3 linked regions of the Homo sapiens genome follow. The protein of the gene in region 2 interacts with the protein of the main gene of each other region in a pairwise test. Each region holds a gene or a part of one and is shown on either strand. Other genes may lie near its edges. The genes, in order: TOLLIP, ODAM and SPATA31A7.

Evidence for each region.
Region 1: the proteins of ODAM (region 2) and TOLLIP interact in a two-hybrid assay, tested with the Homo sapiens proteins (2 studies listed by BioGRID and IntAct).
Region 3: the proteins of ODAM (region 2) and SPATA31A7 interact in binary tests that used the Homo sapiens proteins (3 or more experiments, as listed by UniProt).

The regions. Positions count from the first base shown.
Region 1 is NC_000011.10:1,273,619-1,279,245, forward strand, and holds the end of TOLLIP (toll-interacting protein), read right to left. Parts: intron 3,636-5,627; coding exon 3,421-3,635; 3' UTR 753-3,420; downstream 1-752. UniProt on the Homo sapiens protein: Component of the signaling pathway of IL-1 and Toll-like receptors. Inhibits cell activation by microbial products. Recruits IRAK1 to the IL-1 receptor complex. Inhibits IRAK1 phosphorylation and kinase activity.
Region 2 is NC_000004.12:70,190,301-70,199,057, reverse strand, and holds the start of ODAM (odontogenic ameloblast-associated protein isoform 1 precursor), read right to left. Parts: upstream 3,334-8,757; 5' UTR 3,301-3,333; coding exon of another isoform or gene 3,265-3,300; intron 2,530-3,264; coding exon of another isoform or gene 2,515-2,529; coding exon 2,464-2,514; intron 2,367-2,463; coding exon 2,325-2,366; intron 1,785-2,324; coding exon 1,737-1,784; intron 1,135-1,736; coding exon 901-1,134; intron 480-900; coding exon 432-479; intron 1-431. UniProt on the Homo sapiens protein: Tooth-associated epithelia protein that probably plays a role in odontogenesis, the complex process that results in the initiation and generation of the tooth. May be incorporated in the enamel matrix at the end of mineralization process.
Region 3 is NC_000009.12:61,185,002-61,193,544, reverse strand, and holds the start of SPATA31A7 (spermatogenesis-associated protein 31A7), read right to left. Parts: upstream 3,510-8,543; 5' UTR 3,481-3,509; coding exon 3,292-3,480; intron 2,093-3,291; coding exon 2,035-2,092; intron 1,467-2,034; coding exon 1,406-1,466; intron 1,151-1,405; coding exon 1-1,150. UniProt on the Homo sapiens protein: May play a role in spermatogenesis.

The sequences.
Region 1 (5,627 bases), on a different chromosome or scaffold from region 2:
GACGCCCGGCGATGGGGACGCCCGGCGATGGGGACAGGGCACCAGGAAGCAGGTTGGGATTTGGGCAGGGGAGGCGGGTCCATCTTTGCTCAGGAGTCCCACGCCCAGGGGTCTTTTCCACAGAAGAACTGATGCCATCAGTCATAGCCACAGAGGTAACGGCTGGAAGTTTGCTGTGGAGTCAACACTGCAGAAAGGCCACATTCAGGTGGAGGCAGGGAACCGGCGGGCATGCCTCGGGGGTTGGGCAGCAGAGAGGGGGCAGACACCCCACCGTGTCCATGGACGCTCCAGCAACGCGTCCGTGCCCGGGTGCCAGGGTGGCTCGGGGTCTCTAGAGTGCTGCTCACATTTATGGGCGCTTTGCTCCCTAAGCATGAGCCAGTCATCACTAGGGGCTCAGACTCCTGAGATGGGGGTGCCACGGTCCCAGTGGGCTCTCTCAGAACGGGGTCGTGTTCCACGCTCACTCCCAGATGGAAATGGCCTGGAAATGAAAAGGCACCACAGAACCACCCAGTGGGGAGAGGGTGCCTGGGCTGGAAGAGCAGACCCACGCCCACTGCCACTGTTGAGGGAGGAGCACCTGGGACTTCCCTCCTCTAATTCAATCTGGGAAGCAAAGGCCAGGCTTGGTCTGAAGGTGTAAGGTTCCTGCTCCCAGTCTGTTGACGAGTGAACTCTGATTCTGACTGATTCGTTACTCCTGCGTATTGTGAATTAAGTTAAAAAATACTCGGGAACAAACATGGTAAACCTTCCCTTAAAGGACTTTATTTCTCTATTTTTATATGGATCATTTATTAAATTAGAAGACTAAAAAGTAAAAATATATTTTACAATCAAAGAAAAATCTGGACAATGGACCCCAGTAAAATAATCAGAAGCGCACGTTCTGAGACCACTCCTGCCTGGCACCCTGCAGGGTAGCGCCCAGGGAGCATCTGCAGAGGGGAGAGGAGAGGAGGGGGAGCCTCCGGCGACCTGTCTTCTATCTCCGGAGCCCCGCCTGAGGCTCCAAGATGGCACAGTCAGGCTGTCCTTAGTGACCGCTGCCACGGAGCTGGCGATCGGCCTGCATCTTCAAACCCAGGAGCAGGAGCAGCAGAGGCTGGCAAGGCCTGGGCCCTCAGACACCAGGGGCCTAAACCCAGCTCCCAAACCCACTGCAGCCTCCCCTTGTGAGCTGGCAGACAAGCCTGTCCTTCTGAGTGTGACGACCTCATCCACACCTGACACAGGCGGGGGCGGGGGAGGGTGGGGGTTGTGAACCAGCTAATTCTGGGGACCGCTCGGAGGGGCTCAGCAAGCTGCTTCTACAGTAAGCCACTTCTACAGTAAGCCTTCAAACAGGAAATAAAGCATAAAATGAAGGAAAGAAGAATCTTATTTAATTAAAGGCCTTGCAAAATGTGATTTGTCTATTAAAAAAATAAAGCGCTTGTGAAAAAGAAAACTAAGAGATGGCGGCAAGCGTGGTCATCGGCAAAGGGTTGCTCTCCCTCCAGCGAGGCTGGCCCCCACTGTGTGGGTCCCTCGGGCCCCCACACGGGCTGCTCAAGGGCTGGCAGCAGGGGCCACGTCCTCTCTAGGAGACACCCACAGAGCCACATGTGCACGCGTGTGGCAGTCTCACTGCACCCCAGCAACGCGAAGGCAGAAACCGGTGCTGGTGGCCACACCTGGGCGCCTGGACACCGAAGCCCCCAGCACAGTGAGGCCTCTGAGTGTGGCTTGTGGTCTGTCCTGGGTTAGAGTTGTTAATATCACGGAACATACCATCTAGAACGTTCCAGTCCCGCCTGACACCTTCATTCCCAATGGAGAAGAAATCTACACAGGCGTAAGACCAGGCCATCTGAGACAGGGAATCCCAGGGGCCCCTCCGTCTGAGTGGTCGGCGTCTGCTGAACAAATACCATGTCTTTCTTCTTCAAAGGATCAAAGGCCTTTAGGACCCACAGCTGAAGAAGGCGCCTGCTGCCAGCATGTCCCTCCCCCACGGCCACCACACACTTCAAGTTTACAAAAATAAATATTTATCAACAGTATATTTGACAAAAACCACCCCCAATCGATGGCAGAAAGCAGTATTTTCTAGCTGGCACTGAAACTTAACCTATTTTTTTGAGGGAGAAAAAGACTAAAATGTAAGCACTAACTTCCTCCTTCTGCATCTTCCACAGAAGACCCACTTGTGGGCATTCTCTTTCTGTCCGTTATCAGTGGGTTTACATCCGAAGGCCGGCGGCAAGACACTTGAACCACAAACACCAGACATGCAGGTGTCTCAATGGCATGCAGATTATTTAAAGTGCATCACTTGTGAGAAGCTTCTCAAATTTCTGACTGTCATAACCAGGTGTCACCTAAAATCTGTCCTGTAGGCCAAGATGCTACACGCAGCGCCCAGGCAGTCAGAGGTAAGTGAGCGCCTCCCGCCTCAGAAAGCTTTTACAGGGCCACGCTCGCCAGGCTTTCCTCGCCCACGCTGAACCCACGTCCTGGGCACAGCAGCTCCCAAGCTGTCAGCAGTCGGCTGGCAGTGCCACCACACCCTCTCGGAATCATGCACAGTGCTGCCTCTATCACCTCTCACCCCAGCCTCGCAAGGCCTGTTGAGAAGAGAAGCTCCCTGGGAGGACACCCACGGAGCTGGCACGAGCGCAGCAGGAGAGACGGACGGCAGCCTCCGGCGGGCGAAGGACCCGGCTTCAGATGCCCGCTGGCTGGCAATCAGGCAGAGCCTGGCCAACCGTGCCAGGCCCCCTTCCTCACTCCAGGTGTGGGTTCATTCTGCCTTCAGGCCGGAGTCTGTCACAAGGCTGGCTGGACAGTGGCCAGGTGAGCCAGGCCAGAGGCCGGCCCCACACCATCCACAGGAAGCTGCTCAGCTCACCAGACCCAAGCCCTGGGCAGGGGCCAGGCTCACAGCAAAGCGCGTTAGGGCAAGGGCGTGAGTTTTCGTCTGGGAAGTTCTAAAAAAAACCCACAGTGTGAGGGATTGTGTGTGCCTTAAATCAACAGCTCTATTCCAATTACATCACATCACAAAATGCCATGAATGGAATCGGAAGGCGCTCCACCACCTCCAACACCCTGGCAGAAGCAGCTGCTCTCTACAGCAAGAGCATTTTCCAGAACGGCATGAGAAGGAGAGACGCACGTCCCAGGGACAGGAGAGCGCGCTGAGACCTCCCAGCACGAGATGGGAGGGGAGCCCCCGCCCCGTCCTGGACCGCCAGGAACCGAAAACCCACATGCACCCAAGAACAGGTGTGGACGGGGCGGCACAGAAGTCCACGGGAGGGGGCGACACGGGTGCTCTTTCACGGGAATCTTGTTGGGACAGCATTCCTTGGGGAGCGCCGGGTCGGCGTGTCCAAAGAGCGGGGGCAAAACGGCATCGAGGCAGAGGCTCTATGGCTCCTCCCCCATCTGCAGCAGGGAGTTGATGGCGGCATCCTTGTTCCCTCGCTGGGCTTCCAGCACGGAGCGGATCACCTCCTGGTCCATGTTGGGGAACATGTCCTGGATGGCTTTCAGGTCCTCCTCGCTACAGCGGGGCTGGGCGTTCACGGCGGCCGGGGGCAGGGCCACGGGCACCATGCCGGGGCTACAGACAGCGGGCATCCCTGGAAGCAAAGATCAAGTTTGGTAAAAACGTCGGAAAGTTCCAGAAGTGCCACACTAGCTCCTGCTGAAGGAAGAAAACAACGCATCCCACCGGCCTCCCTGAGGAAGGGGCCACCTCGGGTCTCAGCAAACACCAGTCCCGCAAGACACCCTGGAAAGGCAAACCCCCAAACAGCAACCCCAGGCACAGCCACGGGGAAGGTGGGCAGGGCCCTCTGTGACGCCTCCTTCACTAACTCATCTTCCTTCCATATAAAAATCAAAGTTTGATCTTTCAAATCTCACCCGAGTCTGTTTTATAACTAGCAGGCTGGGGGTGGTGTTTTGATCCCTTCAGAACTCGTGAATTTGCACTGCACACGCTCGTCTTCACTGACCAGTGGGCTCACAGAGTCCTCTGCATCTGGGGACGGACTACACGGAATGTCACGCCCGCTGATCCAAACACTGCACGGTCTGAGCCTCTTCCTTTATCAGGCATTCTAGAAGATGCTTTTGCAGCTTGGCAAGTGTGTCACTAAACTGTGTGCCGGTGGGGAACAATCACCACAGGCACTGAAGACCTCAGCAAAGCTGCAGCCGATGCCCAGAATGACAACCCCACACACACATACAAACTACACCAAGAAAATGCTCACAAAACTCAAACAAGTGGGGCAGCAGGTGCGGTGTACAGTGGACCCTCAGTGCACTGGGGCCACCGTCCAGGGTTCCTGGCATCTCCACCCCACAGCTACGCAGGCCCCTCGCCCCATGTCTGATGCGGGAGGACACACTGAGATGCAATCTATCGAGCAGGAGACGCACGGCGGTTCAGCCACTGCAGCACACACACCCCTGAAGGCACCGTGTGGCCGGACTTAAGACTCGCCTCCCAGCCTGGTGGCCGCTCCCTAAAACCACGAGCAGCCCTGAGCACAGGCAGCGTGCGCGGGGCTCAGCGACCAGTGAGGCACAGAGCACAGGCAGCGTGCGCGGGGCTCGGCGACCAGCGAGGCACAGAGCTCCTCCTGCAGCAGCAGCTGCAGCAGTGCAAGGGTTCACTGCTCACCCGTTCATTCACCTTTAAAAGCACGAACCATCTCCCAGCTAGGATCACTGGAGCGCTAGAGCCCCAATCTTAGGATAGGACTTTTGTTCCTTTCTACACTTGGAGGATCCTAAAGGCAGCAGAAGCCACTTCAATCCTGGCCTGAACCAACACCAGCAACAAGACCTGCAGGGGTGTAAACGGAGCAGACAGGGCTTGCCACCAAGCCTCCTGCACCTGCTGCAAAGGCCAGGACTCCTCAGCAAGGAAGGCCACCGCTTCCCGGCTCCTTCTAGGCCAGGCCGACTCTTCCTCCACACCCACCCCTGCCTCCTCTGCTTCTCGGCTCTCTCAGGGCCAGGCCCACCTTTCCTCCACACCCACACCTGCCTCTTGTCCTGGCCACTGGACACCTCACCTCACTGGGGAAGCATCATCCCCATGCTCATCAGCCTTTCGGCAATGACGGAAAACGAACCGAACCATGGCCAGGTGGGGACGTGGCCACCCTCACCACCCTTTCTTCTTCCTCAAACAAGACAAAGGCTTGGGCGCTGTCTGTCCTGGAGGGACCCCTGGGATCCCCGTGGCTTTTTGGGCGCCCCGGCTGGCAGGCGGGCAGGAACTTGGCCATCACCTGTCCCTGCCCATACAGCTCCCCACAGCATGGCAACAAGAGGAATGGGGCTCGGCCATCGCCTGTCCCTGCCCACACGTCTCCCCACAGCGTGGCAACATGAGGAACGGAGGCACCGTGCTCCCACTCTCTCCAGCCTTTACCAGTCTGATGGGGAAGGGACAGGAGGAGGGGAACTGCTGCAAAATCGATGACGGTGGCTGTGACGCTGCGACGTCACGGCCTGGGGTGTCCCGAGAAACCTGCTCTGCTGACAATGAGGGGATGTGGCGCCGACTGGCCCTCAAGTGAATCCCAACAGCACGGCCCCAACACACTCACTTG
Region 2 (8,757 bases):
AACATGGGCAAGTGTTTCTTATCTCTACATCATATCATATATTATCAGCTTAGTGCATCTCCTTCTGAAGCAAAATTTAAATTTGGATAAAGTCAGCCCATGGTATTTCTCTTGAGTTTTTCCCAACTTCCAGCACTTTGGATGCAGAGAGGACATGACCTGGGGCTTACTGAGCTCTTTTACTCTCAACATAGCAATGCCCTGGAAATTCAGGGGTCCTGGAGACTCTACTTAGCTGCCTGTCCTTAAGGAGTTGTTAAGTGAGCCCAACATCAACAAACTGATACTAGCCCAGCAATGATGTTATCTAGACAGTGATATCATTATATAGGTTTTTATAGCCCTGCTATAGGAGTCAGAGCTAGAAATAGAAAGCATTGTGGAGAGTGTATGTAGCCATCTCTATGGGCAGTGTTGTTATATCCATTTACCTGTCCTTGCTCTTGAGGCATTTTGAAGGAGAATACATAGGGCATCACCTGCCAAAAAAAAGAATTATATAAAAATGTATGCTTGACTTTGTTATTTAAAAATCCCTGAGCTGCTTTTCCTAGAGCTAGCCATATAAATTTATCCTTTGTGTTAACAAGTTTCCACAACAAAAAGTCATCCGTTACATGTGCTGACATAAACTGCCTATTATTGAAGTTTTCCTATCTTATCCTAGACTTGTTTTTAACTTTTTTGGCTTGTTGCTGTATCCTAGAGTAGCTGATTTAAATATTTTTTGTCTTAGAAATCAGAAAATAAAAGAAAGAACTTACAGCGATGGTAGAAACATATAATGAGAAAAAATATTGTTCAAAAACCCCTGCCTATTTCAAAGCTGATTCATATTCATTGTCAGATTAAACATGCAGTTCTCTCTCCTCAGAACAAAATGAAAGAGGCCTGACTTACGTGACTGGGGCCTGGTTGTGTCTGAGGCGGTGTTTGAAGCTGTAAGGGATCAACTTGGCCTGCCTGGGCTCCTTGGGCAAAACTGGCCTCTCCTGTTAAGGGTATCTGATTTGGGAGCAGTCCAGCAAACTGGTCTAGAGCTGATAAAGAGAACTGGGAGAGTCCTGGAATTTGAGCCTGCTGCTGCTGTTGTAAAATTCCAGAGAAAGGTGGAATCCATGAATTAAGTGGGCCCTAAAAAGACACAAAGGAAAGAAAGCATGTTCCCTTCATGCCAAAAAGAATTTAAAAATTAGTCCTGAGCAAGAAAGAGGCAAAATACAAACAATTTCTATAGTTCCAATGTTGCAACATAAAAAAGGACAGCATCTTGATTCATTTTGAACCAAGCAAATAATACGAAGCAAATGCTAAATTCCCGATGGCCATGAGAAATATGGGGCAGGATAAGGTTGATAAAAGAGCCCAACATCTGCATATGCCACACTGGTTTTAAACCGTCTGTATTTTCCCCTACCTTAACCCTAAACCTGCCAACCTGCTGTTACTGGTTAACTGGGCATGACTTTTTGTAAAATAATTACTTTTAACTATCTCATAGTTGTGAGAATTAGTGCCTGGCATATACCAAGTTCTCAATAAATAAGTGTTGTTCAAATTACAGTTTTTACTTTAATCTTCAAGCAAATGGCCACTAGAACATATGAGACAAATTCATAATGTTAAAAACTGAGATTTCCAAAATAGGATCAGGAAACATTTTGTTTTCTTACAAAATAACATAAATGAGCAATAGGTAAATATTCCCCATAAAGTAATTATTGAAATGGAGGTACCTGAAGTTGTAGTGGCAAAAGTTGACCATTATTAAGATTAAGAAGTAACTAGAAAAAGAAAAATAATATGAAATCAAGATTACTACACACTAAAATGAGTAGGAACAATGTTTACTGCAAATATAGCACAAGTCATAGCTGGTTGCTCAATTTCTTGTTAGAAGTGGGACATTTTCTCACTAGGCTTACATTAAATTACAGTGATTAGAAGTTAGATTTAAAACAAGGTTGGGATTTAACAACCTCTCCTCTGTTGGGTATGAGATTGCACAACGTTAGCACATTCCAGTGGTTTAGTCATTTTATGTTTTTAAACACCTATATACACCTGTGTGAGGTGTTATTAGAACAAAAAGATATAAACAATATTGTATCCGCCTTTGAAGAATTAACAATCAATCAAGGGAAGCAGAATAATATTTTAGAGGTAACCTGTTATATAATCAAACATGGACATTAGAAATGTGCTTGGATATACATAAAAGCTAGTGGTGAGGAACACAGTATAAATTAAATGACGACTTCTATCTCTTCCCACTTGATTTCCATTAAAAAAAGGAGGAGATTGTTTTAATTATTTAAACTAACCTCATTGCTATTGCTGGCAGACATGAGACGCTGTGGGATAAGCTAAAAGTAAAAATGAAAAAAAAATCAGAAATAGTAAAAAGAAGGGATTGTTGAAGGTTTAACACAGTGGGACTAGTAGTGCCATAAAATCACTTACTGGGGCTGACAATGTGGCTCCCAGGAATCCAAGAAGAATTATAATTTTCATTTTCGTATGATATATCTAGAAAATAAGTTGTGATCTTTAGCTTTATAAAGACATTACTTAAAATTCATGACAAAATAATTAGTATTGTTCAATCAAAGGAATAGCTGGGTGAATTCTATAGTATTTACTTACATTTTGCAATTTAAAATTTAAAAAGTTATGTTTGTAAATTTCTGATATAACTCTTTATTTTCTCTCAGACAAGCTGTTTATAAAAACCAAGATTGTTTGCTTGTCCTTTTAGCTTGAACAAAATACTCATTTGGAGACATATGATGTGGTTGAATGCATTAAAGAACAAGATGATCTCCTCCTAGTGCTGCCCTACAAGGAGAGGAGCAGGCCCATCAGACCATGGGAGGTCATGACTAAGGCTAACCAACTAGGGACTTATTACTGCAGCAATTTTAATGTCTATGTTGAAAAGTACTTCAATAGAGATTTGACAATACCAGTCCAATACCAGATAATTTCCACTTAGTAGTCTAATAACAGAATAATATACTAGAACTAAGCAACTGAGTCAATGTTTTTGTAATTTATGGCAATAGATTATAAAACTGAACTGTGATATTGATTTATGGTGTAACCTGTTTAAGTATATTTCTCTTGTCTTCTAGATGTGAAACTTTTTTCCCTGCTTCAAATCATTGACCTAATCAAGCATTTAGGGTGAACTTGATAGTCTATCCTGCAGATTTCACTGATTTTGGTTCTTCAAACTATAAAAGCAAAGATTTGATATCTTACCTTACTCCTGGACCTAAAAAGAAAAATCTGAACCATGCGAGATCTGTGTTCTTTTCCTCTCTCAGCTCTACTGCTTGGCACTTCTCTTAAATTTTAAAACTCATCTTTAGAAAAAAAGGACCAATCATTGTTCAAAAAGGACCAGTGATTCAGTGGGTTTCAGACAATGGCTTAGCTAATAACCTCTTTCCTAATCATTTAGGTGGTATATGGATTCCCACACTTTTAGTAATGTTATTAAATTATCCCCTGAGAAATGTTTTCCTGTGATCATTTCTGGCTTCTGGTTTGGTTATGAGTAATTCTCCTAGAATAATTCTCCTAGAATAATTCTATTCTACTCTTTTATAATTCTTAAACTGGATACTCTAATTGAATAAAACTGGATACTGTAACTGAATAAAAGTTAATATCTTTAATAAAGTCAAGGATAAATGGGTGATTATTTTTACTTCAAGGGCGAAATACAGAATTGTTAGGAATCATAGGTCTGAAAAGCAAAACTTCAAAGCCTACTTAGCAGAATTCTTTGCTTCCTCAATGCTGGGCTAAGTAAATGTGGGCTAGTTTCCTTTAGATTTGACCTTGAAAACATCAGTTATTCTCCCTCTACTTACTGAATGCAGTCCTTAAAAAATTGCTAAATTTCCATGTGTCTATGAAATGTATTTGTATATGATCATGTTGCTTGAAATAAATAATTTAATAAGTATAAAGCATGATATCCTACATTTTAAAAAATAGCCGTGAATACATGTTTTTATTGAAAAATGTTTTTGTTATATATTTTAATATTCAAAATACAACTATTACTCTCTGCACATTGTTATTATTTAAATTTCCTTCATAATGGGAGTTTTGTGTTTATTTGTAGTTTTTTTGTTGTTAATATCGACTCCCCTCTAATAGTTCAGGATCACAAGTGTTTTGACAATGTATTATCAATTAATTTTTATTATGGAAGAGTTCTTTTTAGCTAACTTAATCTTGAGCAACTCATGATAGTCTTATGCAGGAAAACAAAATTATTGCCTTTTAATACATTTGTCTTTTTTGGTAGAATGAGACAGAGCTTGCATGGCTCATTAATACTAAAATAATTATACTATTTGTTATTTATCTGGTCAAAAAATCCAAGTACATAAATCATTAGTTAGAATAAAAAGACATTTTTCTTTACTAAAGAAGAAAACCCACCAGTAGGACTTTATATCTATTAGAAAGTATTAAATTGAATTACGTTTAGCCTAAAGCTGCCTCCATACATATTTTAAGTTTGACCTAAAGATTTCTTATAATAGTGAACTGTAACCTAATGATGTTAAACAAACTGTAACCTACTGTTTTAACAAGAAGCTGAGTGACAGCCAATCACAAGCAGCCAACTGTTCAAATGTGTTCAAATAAGGCAATTGCAGAGCTGCAACGGGTACCAACTCACTGTTTCTGTAATTCATTTCCATTTTCTGTACACCGTTTTCCTTTTCTGTCCATAAATGTTATTTGACCACGTGGCAGCTCCGGAGTCACTCTGAATGTATTTTTATTCCAGGCTGCCTGATTTGCAAATCATTCTTTACTCAATTAAATTCTGTTAAATTTAATTTGCTGAAAGTTTTTCTTTTAGCAAAAGTAACTTTCCTGAGATTTGTGATAGTGGTCTTCTTAGATTAACTAAAAAATTAGACAACCCTAGATGTTAATGGCAGATTTAACTAAAGCTTAAACATAAAGGTCGTTAATGTAACCAATTGTTGCCTGGAAAATGCAGTAGATTTGTTGAATGAGTGAACTAGGAGGAAGGTTCTGTATTGCATGATGATATATATTTACAATTAATGACTTTGGTCTATTCTGAATATTGTCAAATTAAATACGCCATAAGCTCTCATTCTCTTGAGAGACTATTTTCTATTGCAGGCTGCAGGGTCTTAGCCAGCTAACCCCACTACTGAGCCAGAAAATTGTCAAGACCAAGCACTGGAAAGGTCAGCAACTGGATTATAGAGTGAAAAACACAGTCAATTTAAAAATTATTCTGATGGTGAATTGTTTATCTAACTATATTCCTCAACTCTGGAGACAATTGGAAGACTTCCGTCATTGCGTTCTTTTTGTTTTTATTTTTCATTACCTGAGTATTTAAAGAAAAGCAATTGAAACTCTCCAGTTATTCAGCAGTTGAAGTGAAAAAGAACAGGCTATGCTTTATTATCTGATAGCTTTCAAGAACCTGTGTCATTGGAGGCAAAGTTATCTCTAGCTAGGAGGGGAAGTAGCAAGGGACTCTAGTTTTCATCACGTTGTAGTGTGGATATTGTATATGTCTGTTTCTTCCATTCAACTAGGTTGAATATACTCATTATCTATTCCTGTGTCAGTCACAAAATAGGTATTCCCCTAAGTTTTGTTAAATAAATGGTTTCTTCATTCAGGGAAGAAAAAAAGGTGGTCTAATTCCAGAGCAATGTGAGTCTGTATGGATTAAGTTGCAGGGACCTAAGATGAGGAAATCCGGAACCTGATGTCATCATTATAACTTCATTATTTTGGTTTAGTTCAATTACCAGAACACCAGACAACCCTCCATTCAAATAAAAGTACAAAAACATATTCTAATGCCAAGTACACATGACTGTTGAATTATGTACCATCTATATCTTTGTTCTGTTCCAGTAACATAGATGATGAAAAGTAAACAACAGTGGTTTGTAAATTAGTGCTTTCAAAATGTTATCCCTGCTCTCTTTTCCTTCAACTATCCTGAAAAATCAATCAAGGCTTAACAGAGTGCCATTGTAAAGCAGAGCAATGTTCTGTGGATCATGACAACTGAATTTAAATTTTATCGCTTCTTAAAATAATTTTCTTCCACCTGAGCTGTAATTTCCCAGGGACTTCTAATGATATATCAAGGTAGGCAAGATATGTATATATCACCCTCATGCTTCAACGAGAAAACTGAAGTACAGAAGGTTCAGTGACTTCATTCATTAATGAATTAGTTTATTTATACAAGAAATAGTTGTTGCACAACTTCTATAGTCCATATCCTTGCTAGGCATTCAGAACTTAGTGCTAATGTTAATACAAATAGTTTTTACCTTCATGGACATTACAGTTTTTTTCACACTTTCAGAAGGTACCAGACTTGTGGCTAGAATTCAGGTCTTTTGATTCTCAATTATGTAGTTCTATCTCAAAGCACCCAGATGCCTAACTAGAGAGGAGAAAGACATAGTACCATAATAAAGACAATTAACAAAAAAATTATAACTCGAGCAGTAAATACAGAGAATCAGCAAGCTGTCAACTAAATCTCTTCTATTACATTGGGTGTTTTCTGTTAACTACCATGAGACTTTACTAAAGTAATCCCTTCTATTTGATATTGTACATTATTGGATACTAATCATCCCATGTCCACTATGACAGTATGTCCTAGCTTAGTAACTCTAGCTTGATGAGGTGAGTCTATTTTATTATATTTAAGATTTGTAGGTATGTGTATGTGAATTATGGCTATAATTTCCAGGAGTGTTGGCTTAGATATAAAGGTGTTAAGAAAAATAAAAGAATATACCTCTTCCTTTCATAAGAAGGAATTCATAAGTTTCAGAGTAGTTGAGAGAGGCCAGCACACAGCTAAGTTTGGGCTAGAAATGGTCAACTTTCAGCGATTCCCTGAAGTGTGGCAAGTCAAGTATGCAATGGGAGACATGTCTCTCAAATACAGCTTGTTCTAGCCTGGGTGTAAATCAACATCCACTTTCTCTGAAAGTAATTTCTTTTGTCCCTTGACCTGAAAGAGTTTCTTTCTGTACTAAACCTCTATAGTATTTATTTTGCCTTTTGCTTTGTGAATTCCATCCTTACCATTTTAATGACTCCTGCATCTGTTTCTTTGTTTGGGGCCTGCAATCAGTTTGGCCTTAACCCAGTTTTTGTACTACAACTTTTTGGAGAAACAAAACACGTCATTAAACAACTCAATTTTAAACAAAATTTTATGGTTCTGGTAACTTGCCTATGATTGATGTCATGAGGGAGGAAGTCCACAATGTTTGGCCAATATCAGGCTTTCTCCTCCTTCCCAAACATTTAGCAAAGCCTGTGGTGTGGTGAGGGGACTCTCTTATGAATGTCCTAGTCAAGGGGAGTAATACATTGCCCAGTCTGCCTTAGTTCTCCCTCAGACTTCTGGTGATAATCTTTTTCCATTTTGTTGCATTAAAAGTTTATCTCCTTGATAAGATGTTATGCTTTCTGATAGCAATGTATTTTATTCTACTCTTCAAAAAATTTGCTATAAAAAAACCAAAAACAAACAAACAAAAAACAAAAAAATTGCTATCTTGTCTGGTGAAACCCCTTCTCTACTAAAAATACAAACAAAAAACAAACAAACAAAAAACAAAAAAATTGCTATCTTGTCTTTCTTTCTTATTCTCCACTCCTTTCTCCTTCCCTTTTTCCATTTGCTTCTCTTCCTTTTTCTCCTCCTTCTCCCCTTATCTCCTATTTCAATTATTTTCCTCTTACCCTAGAAGAAAACCTAGGCATTACCATTCAGGACATAGGCATGGGGAAGGACTTCATGTCTAAAACACCAAAAGCAATGGCAACAAAAGACAAAATTGACAAATGGGATCTAATTAAACTAAAGAGCTTCTGCACAGCAAAAGAAACTACCATCAGAGTGAACAGGCAACCTACAAAATGGGAGAAAATTTTCGCAACCTACTCATCTGACAAAGGGCTAATATCCAGAATCTACAATGAACTCAAACAAATTTACAAGAAAAAAACAAACAACCCCATCAAAAAGTGGGTGAAGGACATGAACAGACACTTTTTTTTTTTTTAAACCTGGTTTACAAAGTCCTCAGTGATCTGGCCTTTGCTTTATTCTTCCACTTCATGACTTCTCATTCTTCTCCTTATTCACTAAGCTGCAACCTCACTAGCTTTCATTCTGAGTTTTGAATATGTTAAATGCATTGCTCTTTAAGGCCTTTTCACCTGCTGTTCCCTATGCCTGGAATGCGCTGCCTCCAATTAGTGAGGGGCTGGTGGATTCTTATAATTTATATCTCATTTTAGGTATCACTCCACAGAAGAATGTTCCCAGATTACTCAATCTAGGGCAGCTGCTTCTATCATACTACCCTGTTTAAGTTCTCTGCAAAGCATGTGTCACCATTTCATACTGATATATTCGTTTTCTTTTTGAAATTTTAATTATAAAATATTCTTGAAAAAATCTAAACTATTAACTTCAAAATGTTGTTCAGGAGAATCCCCTTGCTTTCACCAATGCCTCTATTCTCAAATTCTATCCTTTAGGCAGTGGAGTGTGATAAAACAGATCTCTGCCGAAAAAGGGGGCCTCGATTTATACCATCTCCCAGTTTTTATAGCGTGAATACTCCCACCAGGGCCACATGATCTTTCTTATGTAATGTAATGGTACTAAAACCGTAATTTATCTGG
Region 3 (8,543 bases), on a different chromosome or scaffold from region 2:
TGTGGATGAAATAAAGGGTTGGCACTCGGGCCCCAGATGGGACAGGGGCTGGGCCTGGAAAAGCAGTGGGGACATTGTAGTCTCCCTTTGAATTGGGCAGACATTGGACATTTCATTGAACAAGAAAGGAGGAGACTGTAAAGTATAAGACCTGTCAGTTACCCAGGCGTTAGCCACCAGGGACTCGCTGTGCAGAGAGGGGAGGCCCCAGAAAAGCTGGCTATAATTCTTCCAAAAACTTTCCTGCCAGAGCCTAGGATCTGAGAGCTTCTGAGGTCCGGGCAGCTGTTTCGAGTTCTCTCCCATGTTCCAGAAGGGTTTTGGGTTTGTGGTGTCCTGCTCAGCATCCAATGATTTAGCCAAATTCCGCAAATAATTTAAGTGCTTTTCTGGGGTCATTCGATTTGTAAATGATCCAACATTTTCTTTTTCTTCCCAAATGTTGACCTTGGCTGTTTCTGTGACTTGTATCCCCACGACATTCTGGCCATCAGAGCTGAGCAAAAACAGGCTACCAGCTTCCATCTGACAGGTCTCTGGTGGGTGGCGGGAAAGATGATCTTGCTGGACTGATGAGTTAAAGGCGCACGAGGTTCTGGCAGTCTCCTGCCACCGGGAGGAGGCAGAAACATGACTGTTTGAGCCACCAAGGCCTGAGATGGCTGGGACAGAAGCCACCAAATCCTCATGTGGAGACAAGCTTTGAGGGACGGTGCCCAGTGGAAATGCCACTGAGTCACAGTGAGATGGAGTTATCAGTGTGGAGTCCCGCAGGGGAGGAGCAGTGAAGCCTTTTGGAGGAGGCAGAGAGCAGGCCAGAGGATCAGGGGTGTGTGGTGGGTGAGGGAAAAGTGCAGGTGGCTCGGGTGAGGGGTGTTCTAGGGGAAGGGAAGGTTCTGGTGGCTGGGAGGCACTTAGGGAGGAGACTGAGGTGGTCATTGGGCCTGGTGATGGGGTGGAGGCCAGATCCTGAGGATGCTTGGCTTGAGGATCCGGGGAAGCTAACGGGGAGAGAATGGGAGCAGCATCTTCCATAGGCTCATGAGAGGACTGGGAGGCTCCATCAGGTGCTCTTTCACCCACCTCACCTGGGGGGTCTGGACCGGAGAGCTGACCAAAGTCACCTTTGTCAAGGTGTGGCCCCAGGAGGCTGCAGGAGACAGGAGGCACGAGCTGCAGCCAGGAGCCGGTGGGGCCGGAGGGCAGAGTGGGTGCTCGGGCCACAGCCCCTCCACCACCCCACACCCTGATTGCCCAATTCTCCTGCTACCCCTCGCCCCAGGGTTTTACTCCCATCCTCTGTCCCCCTGGTCTCCCCATCCCAGGTCAGCTCCAGGCTGCCTGTGGCCCTGGGGTCACGTCCCAGCCCTGGTAGGAAGGATGCAGGGAAGGGGAAGTGCCTCACCTCTGCAGTTGTGAAAGCAGGTCCGAAGTCTCCTCCAGGCCTCTCGGGCACTCTCTACCAGCTGGAAATCAGGAGACTGGGTTAGGGCAGTGAGGGAGGGGCCTGGGTTCTCACAGGAGGCTGAGTGGCTGTTTCTTTAGGGAGGACCATGGGGAATTAGACCCTGGACCCCACCCATCTGTGTCCAAAGCCACATGACCCCGACGTTAATAGCAAGGCATGGAGGACAAGGCTTTTTCATTCACAAAGGGCTTCCACACACGGACCCCCCACCCCCACAGTCCTCACAACTGCCCTGTGGGGAGAAAGGACTGAGGTGGTCTCAAAGAGGAATCAGCCTTAGCAGAGTTGGACAGCTGTTCCCAGGGAGCGGGAGGCCCCCTCACCCCCCTCCGCATCCAGGCAGGCATTGGTCTCCCCAGGACACACACACTGCCCCCTGCTGGGTAACGCCCAGTCCCTGGCCCACCATGGCTTCATTCCCGCATGGAATCTGAGAAGGACCCGGGGTTCTGATTTCCTTCCTAGGAGCCCCCACCTCAGGCTTCTTCAACTGACTTCTTCAGAGTCAGTTCCCTTCGGGACAGATGAGATCAAATTAACTCTAGTGTGCTCTGGCAGAGCCTTACCTCTCAGACTGTGGTTTTTCATCCTGCCTCTGGGCCTCCGCCTCCGCCCTACTGGACACTGGGAGACACGATGACGTACGGAGACAAGATGACGCAGAGAGACAAGATGACAATGGGAGACAAGAAAGGGTGAGAAGCTAGGACCGGCTCTCCCTCTCTGCCCCAGCCCAGCCGCAGCATGCTGCACTCAGGAACCGCATGGCTCTCTCTGTCTTGCTCAGGGAGCTCTGTGTGCTTCCTCCCACTCTTGTTTAAATGGATGATAAACTGCTTTTCTTCTTAGAAAAACAGCAAGAGGGGGCTGGGCGTGGTAGCTCACGCCTATAATCCAAGCACTTTGGGAGGCCAAGGTGGGTTGATCACCTGAGGTCAGGAGTTTGAGACCAGCCTGGCCATGGTGAAACCCCGTGTCTACTAAAAATACAAAAATTAGGCAGGCATGGTGGTGGGCGCCTGTAATCCCCAGCTATTCAGGACTCTAAGACAGGAGAATCGCTTGAACTCAGGAAGCAGAGGTTGCAGTGAGCCGATATCACTCCATTTCACTGCAACCTGCACCACAGAGCGAGACTCCATCTCAAAAAATAAAATAAAATAAAATAAAATAAAATAAAATAAAATAAAATAAAATAAAAATAACACACACAAATAAAATAAAAATACACACACACACACACACACACACACACACACAGAGGGATTTTCAATATGAGGTCCACCACGGACACCTTCAGTCCCTGTTCCTCTGCTCCAGGAACACCCAAGTTCAGGCCCGCAGGCACTGCTGAGCTATCAGGTAGGATTCTGCTTCCCAGAAGACCAGAGGAGACACCAGGCCCTGGTGGGAGGCCCTCAGGGGCCCAGCACAGGCCCCAGATCACCCCACACAGGGGAGGCTGGGCCCTGAGCCACCTGCACCAGAAAGGGGCTGATGAGCCAGGGCTCAGGGCCTGGTCTCGGACAGAGACCTCCCCAGTCTCATGACTGGTACTGGTGCTGAGTCCACTGGTTTGATTTTGCCTTGATGCCTCCTGTGCTCCCCCACAGATGGACTGAGAGCTTGGGATGGAAATCCCAGTACACTATCTACCCCTACCAACCCCTGGCTGCCCTGCCTCTCCCTGGAAGGATGATGTTCTGGTCTCTTCTGAGACTTCCCATCATAGAAGGCTCTCCACTGGATTTGGAAAAGTGGAACTAATAATAAAAAGAAAGGAGAGAATCAAGCTCTGTGGGTTGGGACTGAGGGTTCCTTACCTTTCTCTTCCCAGGCGATGGTGAGGGTGGGTCATCACAACGGAAGTAAGATAAGTAGGGGAGTAATAGGAAGAAGAACCCCAGGGCAAACACCAAAGTGAGGAAGATATCCAACACCCATGGTGTGGAACTGGGGGCGTTTAGCGATGAGGCACTAAGTAATTTTAAAGGAAAGGGAAGATTCTCCATGTGAATAGGCGCGTTGCTTTCAAGCAACTGAGCTCTGGGCATCCCCGTGGGGACTAGGGACTGGGGCCCAGGCCTGCGTCACAGAGGTGGGGCCTTGATGTCACAAAGGGCTCCTTTGTTGGGGAGGGGCAGTGGGAGGGGGAGGCGCAGAGGGAGGGGGAGGTGCAGCAGGAGGGGGAGAGGGAGGGAGAGGGGCAGGGGAGGGGGAGACTGAAGCACAGCCCCTCCCCACCCCCCAAGCTGGGGATCCCTCCACCATCCCACCTTCTAGATCCCTCCTTCCCACTAAGTTTTGTCAGTGATAGCCAATTTTCTATTCTTTCTCCCTGGAATATAGATATTACCTGGTTCCTTTTATCTGTTGGAGACGGTGGCTTGAGGTTACCTATTTTATAGCCCTTGAAAATCTGAAGTTCTGAAATTTTGGCTATGTACCAGGGATTTTTATTCTCAGAATCTCGTTCATCCTCAACTCCAGCTTTTCCACACTATGTTTTTGTCTTGTATCAATCCAGGGACAAAATGTAAATTTCTTTTACTCTTATTTAGTTTTGCAAATTTTGAATAGTAAGTTTTAAAAAATTATTTCTATCTCACTTTCAATCAAAGGGAACTACCCACATACAATTAAGATTTTTTTTTTTGTCTTTTAAAATTTTATTTGTGTACTTATGTATTTATTTTATTTTAACTTTCGGGATACATGTGCAGGACATGCAGTTTTCTTACATAGGCAAATATGTACCATGGTGATTTGCTGCACCTATCAACCCATCACTTAGGTATTAAACCCAGCATGCATTAGCTATTTTTCCTGATGCTCTCCCTACCACCGGCCCTCCCTCGACAGGTGCCAGGGTGTGTTGTTTCCCTCCCAGTGTCCATATGTTCTCATTGTTCGGCTCCCACTTGTAAGTGAGAACATGTGGTATTTGGTTTTCTGTTCCTGTGTTAGTTTGCTGAGGATAATGGCTTCCAGCTTCATCCATGTCCCCGCAAAGGACTTGATCTCATTCCTTTTTATGGCTGCATAGTATTCCATGGTGTATATGTACCACATTTTATTTATCCAGTCTATCATTGGTGGGCATTGGGTTGATTCCATGTCTTTGCTATTGGGAACAGTGCTGCAATAAACATACACGTGCATGTATCTTTGTAATAGAATGATTTATATTCCTTTGGATATGCAATAATGGTATATCTGCCACAGCCTCTGTACTGCACTGTGGGGAATTCTGCCCAGCGCAAACCACCCAGTCTCCCTAGCACTGGTGGGGGAAAACCACCGGCTAGACCCGCAGTAATGGCGGTCACCCTTCCCCCCAGGAACTTGGTCTTCTTAGGCAGACTCCAGGTGCTGTGCTAGCCAGTGGGGATTCCATGCCAGTGGGTCTTAGCTTGTGGGGTTCTGTGGGAGTGGGTCTGCTTGGCTCCCTGGCTTCAGCCCTCTTCTCATGGGAGTTGATGGATCTCCTGCTTCACTGGATTTCTGCGAGCCACCAGAGTACGCAGAAACTCCTACAGCTCAGTACCTGCCCAAGTGGCTGCCAGCTGGAGCCCCTGCTATGGGTCTGCACAGCTTTGTGCTTGGGACCCAAGGCCCTGGTGGTGTGGACTCACAAAGGGATTACCTGTTCTGGGGTTTGCAAAAATCTGTGGGTAAAGCACAGTTCTCCGGGTGGGTAGCACAATCCCTCACTGCCTCCCTTGGCTGGAGGAGGGAGGTCTCTTTGCCCTGTGTAGCTCTTGGGTGAACTGTCGCCCAACTCTGCTTTTCCTTGCTCTCCATGGGTCACACCAACTGCCTAGTCAGTCCCAATGAGGGAATCTGGATACCTCAGTTAGAAATGCAGAATTCACTCGCTGTTTATGTTTGTCTCAGTGGGGGCTGTAGAGTAGAGCTGTTTCTACTCAACCATCTTGGCCCCTCCCCCCAATTAAAATAATTAATATTCAAAATTTGTAATTCTAATTATGAAACAGTTATAAGTAGTTAAACCTTCAAGTGGTATTTCTGTAAATGTGTAGCATTTACAGTTCTGGACTTGGTAATGCTTAAAGTGCACGATAACTTATGGGACTGCTACATAGGCATACCTCAGAGATACTGTGGGTTTGGTTTCAGGCCACTGTGGAGATGAGCTCTTTAGGGCAGTGCCCAATGGAAGTGCCATTGAGTCACATTGAGACGGAGTCAGAATGCAGTCCAGCAGTGGGGGAGCAATGAAGGCTTTTGGAGGAGGTGGAGGGCAGGCCAGACAATGGGGGTGGGTATGATGGGTGAGGGGAAAATGCAGGTGGCTTGGGTGAAGGGCGTTCTAGGGGAAGGGAAGATTCTGGTGGCCAGTTCTGCAATAAAACAAATATGGCAATAAGGCAAATCACACAGAATTTTTGGTTTCTCAGTGCATATAAAAGTTAGGTCTATACTATACTGTAGTCTATTAAGTGGGCAATACCATTATGTATAAAAAAGTCAATGTACATACCTTAGTCAAAAATTATTTTACTGTTTAAAAATGCTATCGATCACCTGAGTCTTCAACATCATGATCTTTTTGCTGGTCAGTGGCCTTGCCTCAGTGTTGTGGCTGCTGACTCATCATGGTGGAAGCTGCTGGAGGTGAGGTGGCTGTGGCAATTTCTTAAAATAAGACAACAATGAAGTTTGCTACATCAGTTGACTATTTCTTTCAAGATTCCTCTGTAGCATGCAATGCTGTTTGACAGCATTTTACCCACAGTAGAGCTTCCTTCAAATCGGAGACAATCCTCTCAAACCCTGCCACTGCTTTATCCACTAAGTTTATGCAATTTTCTAAATACTCTGTTGTCATTTCAACAAGGTTCACAGCATCTACACCTGGAGTAGTTTCCATCTCAAGAAACCACTTTCTTTGCTCATCCAAGTTCTCATTTGTTAAAATTTTGTCATGAGATTTCAGCAATTCAGCCACATCTTAAGTTCTCTTCACATCTTTTAATCTTAGTTCTCTTGCCATTTCCACCACGTCTGCAGTTACTTCTTGCACTGAAGTCTTGAACCCTCAAAGTCATCCATGAGGATTGGAATCAACTTCTTCCAAATTTCTTTTAATATTGATATTTTAACCTCCTCCCATGAATCACAAATGTTCTTAATTTTAACCTCCTCCCATGAATTGCAAATGCTTCTAGAATGGTGAAACCTTTCTAGAAGGTTTTCAACTTACTTTGCCCAGATCTATCGAAGGAACTACTATACATGGTGGCTACAGCCTTATGAAATGTATTTCTCAGATAATCAGCCTTGAAAGTCTAAATTACTCATTGATCCCTGGGCTGCAGAATGGATGTTGTATTAGCAGGCATGCAAACAGCTTTAATTTTCTTGTAGTTCTCCATCAGAGCTCTTGGGTGACCAGGTAAATTGTCAATGAACAATAATATTTTGAAAGAGATCTTTTTTTAAAGCAGTAGTTCTCAGGTGTGAGCTTAAAATATTCATGTCGTAACAGATGTGATGTCATTCAGGCTTTGTCCCATTTATAGAGCACAGGCAGAGTAGATGTAGCATAGTTCTTAAGGGCCCTAGAATTTTCAGAATGGTAGATGAGCTTTGGCTTCAGCTTAAGCCCCTAACAAAAGAGTCATCCTGTTCTTTGAAGCATTGAAGTCAGGCATTTATTTTGCTACCTGGCTGTAAAAGTCCTGGATGACATCCTCTTCCAATATAAGGCTGTTTTATCTGCAATAAAAAGCTTTGTTTAGTGTAGCCACCTTTGTTGCTTCTCTTAGCTGATCTTATGGATGACTTGCTGCAGCTTCTACATCAGCACTTGCTGCTTTTCCTTGCACTTTTATCTTATGGAGAAGACTTCTTTCCTTAAACCTCATGAACCAATCTCTGCTAGCTTCAAACTTTTTTTCTGTGGCTTCCCAACCTCTCTCAGCCTTCAGAGAATTAAGAAGAATTAGGTCCTTGCTCTCGATTAGGGTTTGGCTTAAGGAAATGTTGTGGTTGGTTTGATCTTCTATCCAAACCACTCAAACCTTCTCCATATCAGCGATAAGTCTCTTTCACTTTCATACCACTCATGTGTTCATTGGAGTAATACTTTTAATTTCCTTCAAGAACTTTTTCTTTTCATGCACAGTTTGGCTGTTAGGTGCAGGATGCCTAGTTTTTGGCCTGTTTCAGCTTTTAACATGCCTTCCTCACTCACCTTAATCATTTCTCACTTTTGATTTAAATAAGAGATGTGTGACTCTTACTTTCACTTGAACACATAGAGGCCTTTGTAGAGTTATTAATTGGCCTAATTTCAATATTCCTGTGTCTCAGAAAACAGGGAGACCTGAGGAGTTGGGGGGATGGAGGAAGGGCAGATCGATGGAACCATTCAGACACACATATGTATCAATTAGGCTCATTGTCTTTTGGAGCATGGTTTGTGATGCCCCAAAACAATGACAATAGTAATATCAATGATCACTGATCACACATTACCGTAACAGATATAATAATAACAAAACATTTGAAATATTGCAAGAATTACAAAAATGTAACACAGAGATACAAAATAAGCACATGCTACCAGAAAAGTGGCACTGGTAGACTTGCTTGATGCAGGGTTGCCATAAACCTTCAACCTGTAAAAAATGCAATATCCAAGAAGCATAATAAAGTGAAGTGCAATAAAACAAGGTAAGCTTGTATATGTATGCATGCACACACCAGTACGCATCCACCTATCCACACACAAATCTTTGTACAAACAAATCCTGTATTTTCAATTCCAACAATACATCATTTGCACCTTAAAAATATCTGTCAACCTTGTAGTATCTTTTCTGTCTTTGTTATCAGGGTAATGCTGGCCTCATAAAAAATGTTTGTATTCCCTCCTCTTCAACTTTTGGAAGAGTTTGTGAAGAAATGGTACTAATTCTTCTTTAAACATTTGCTAGACTTCTCCACTAAGCTATCTGGTCTTGGATTTTCCTTTTTCAGGAGCTTTTTGACCACTGACTCAATATTTTTACTCATTATTTGTGTTGATTTTCTATTTCTTCATGTT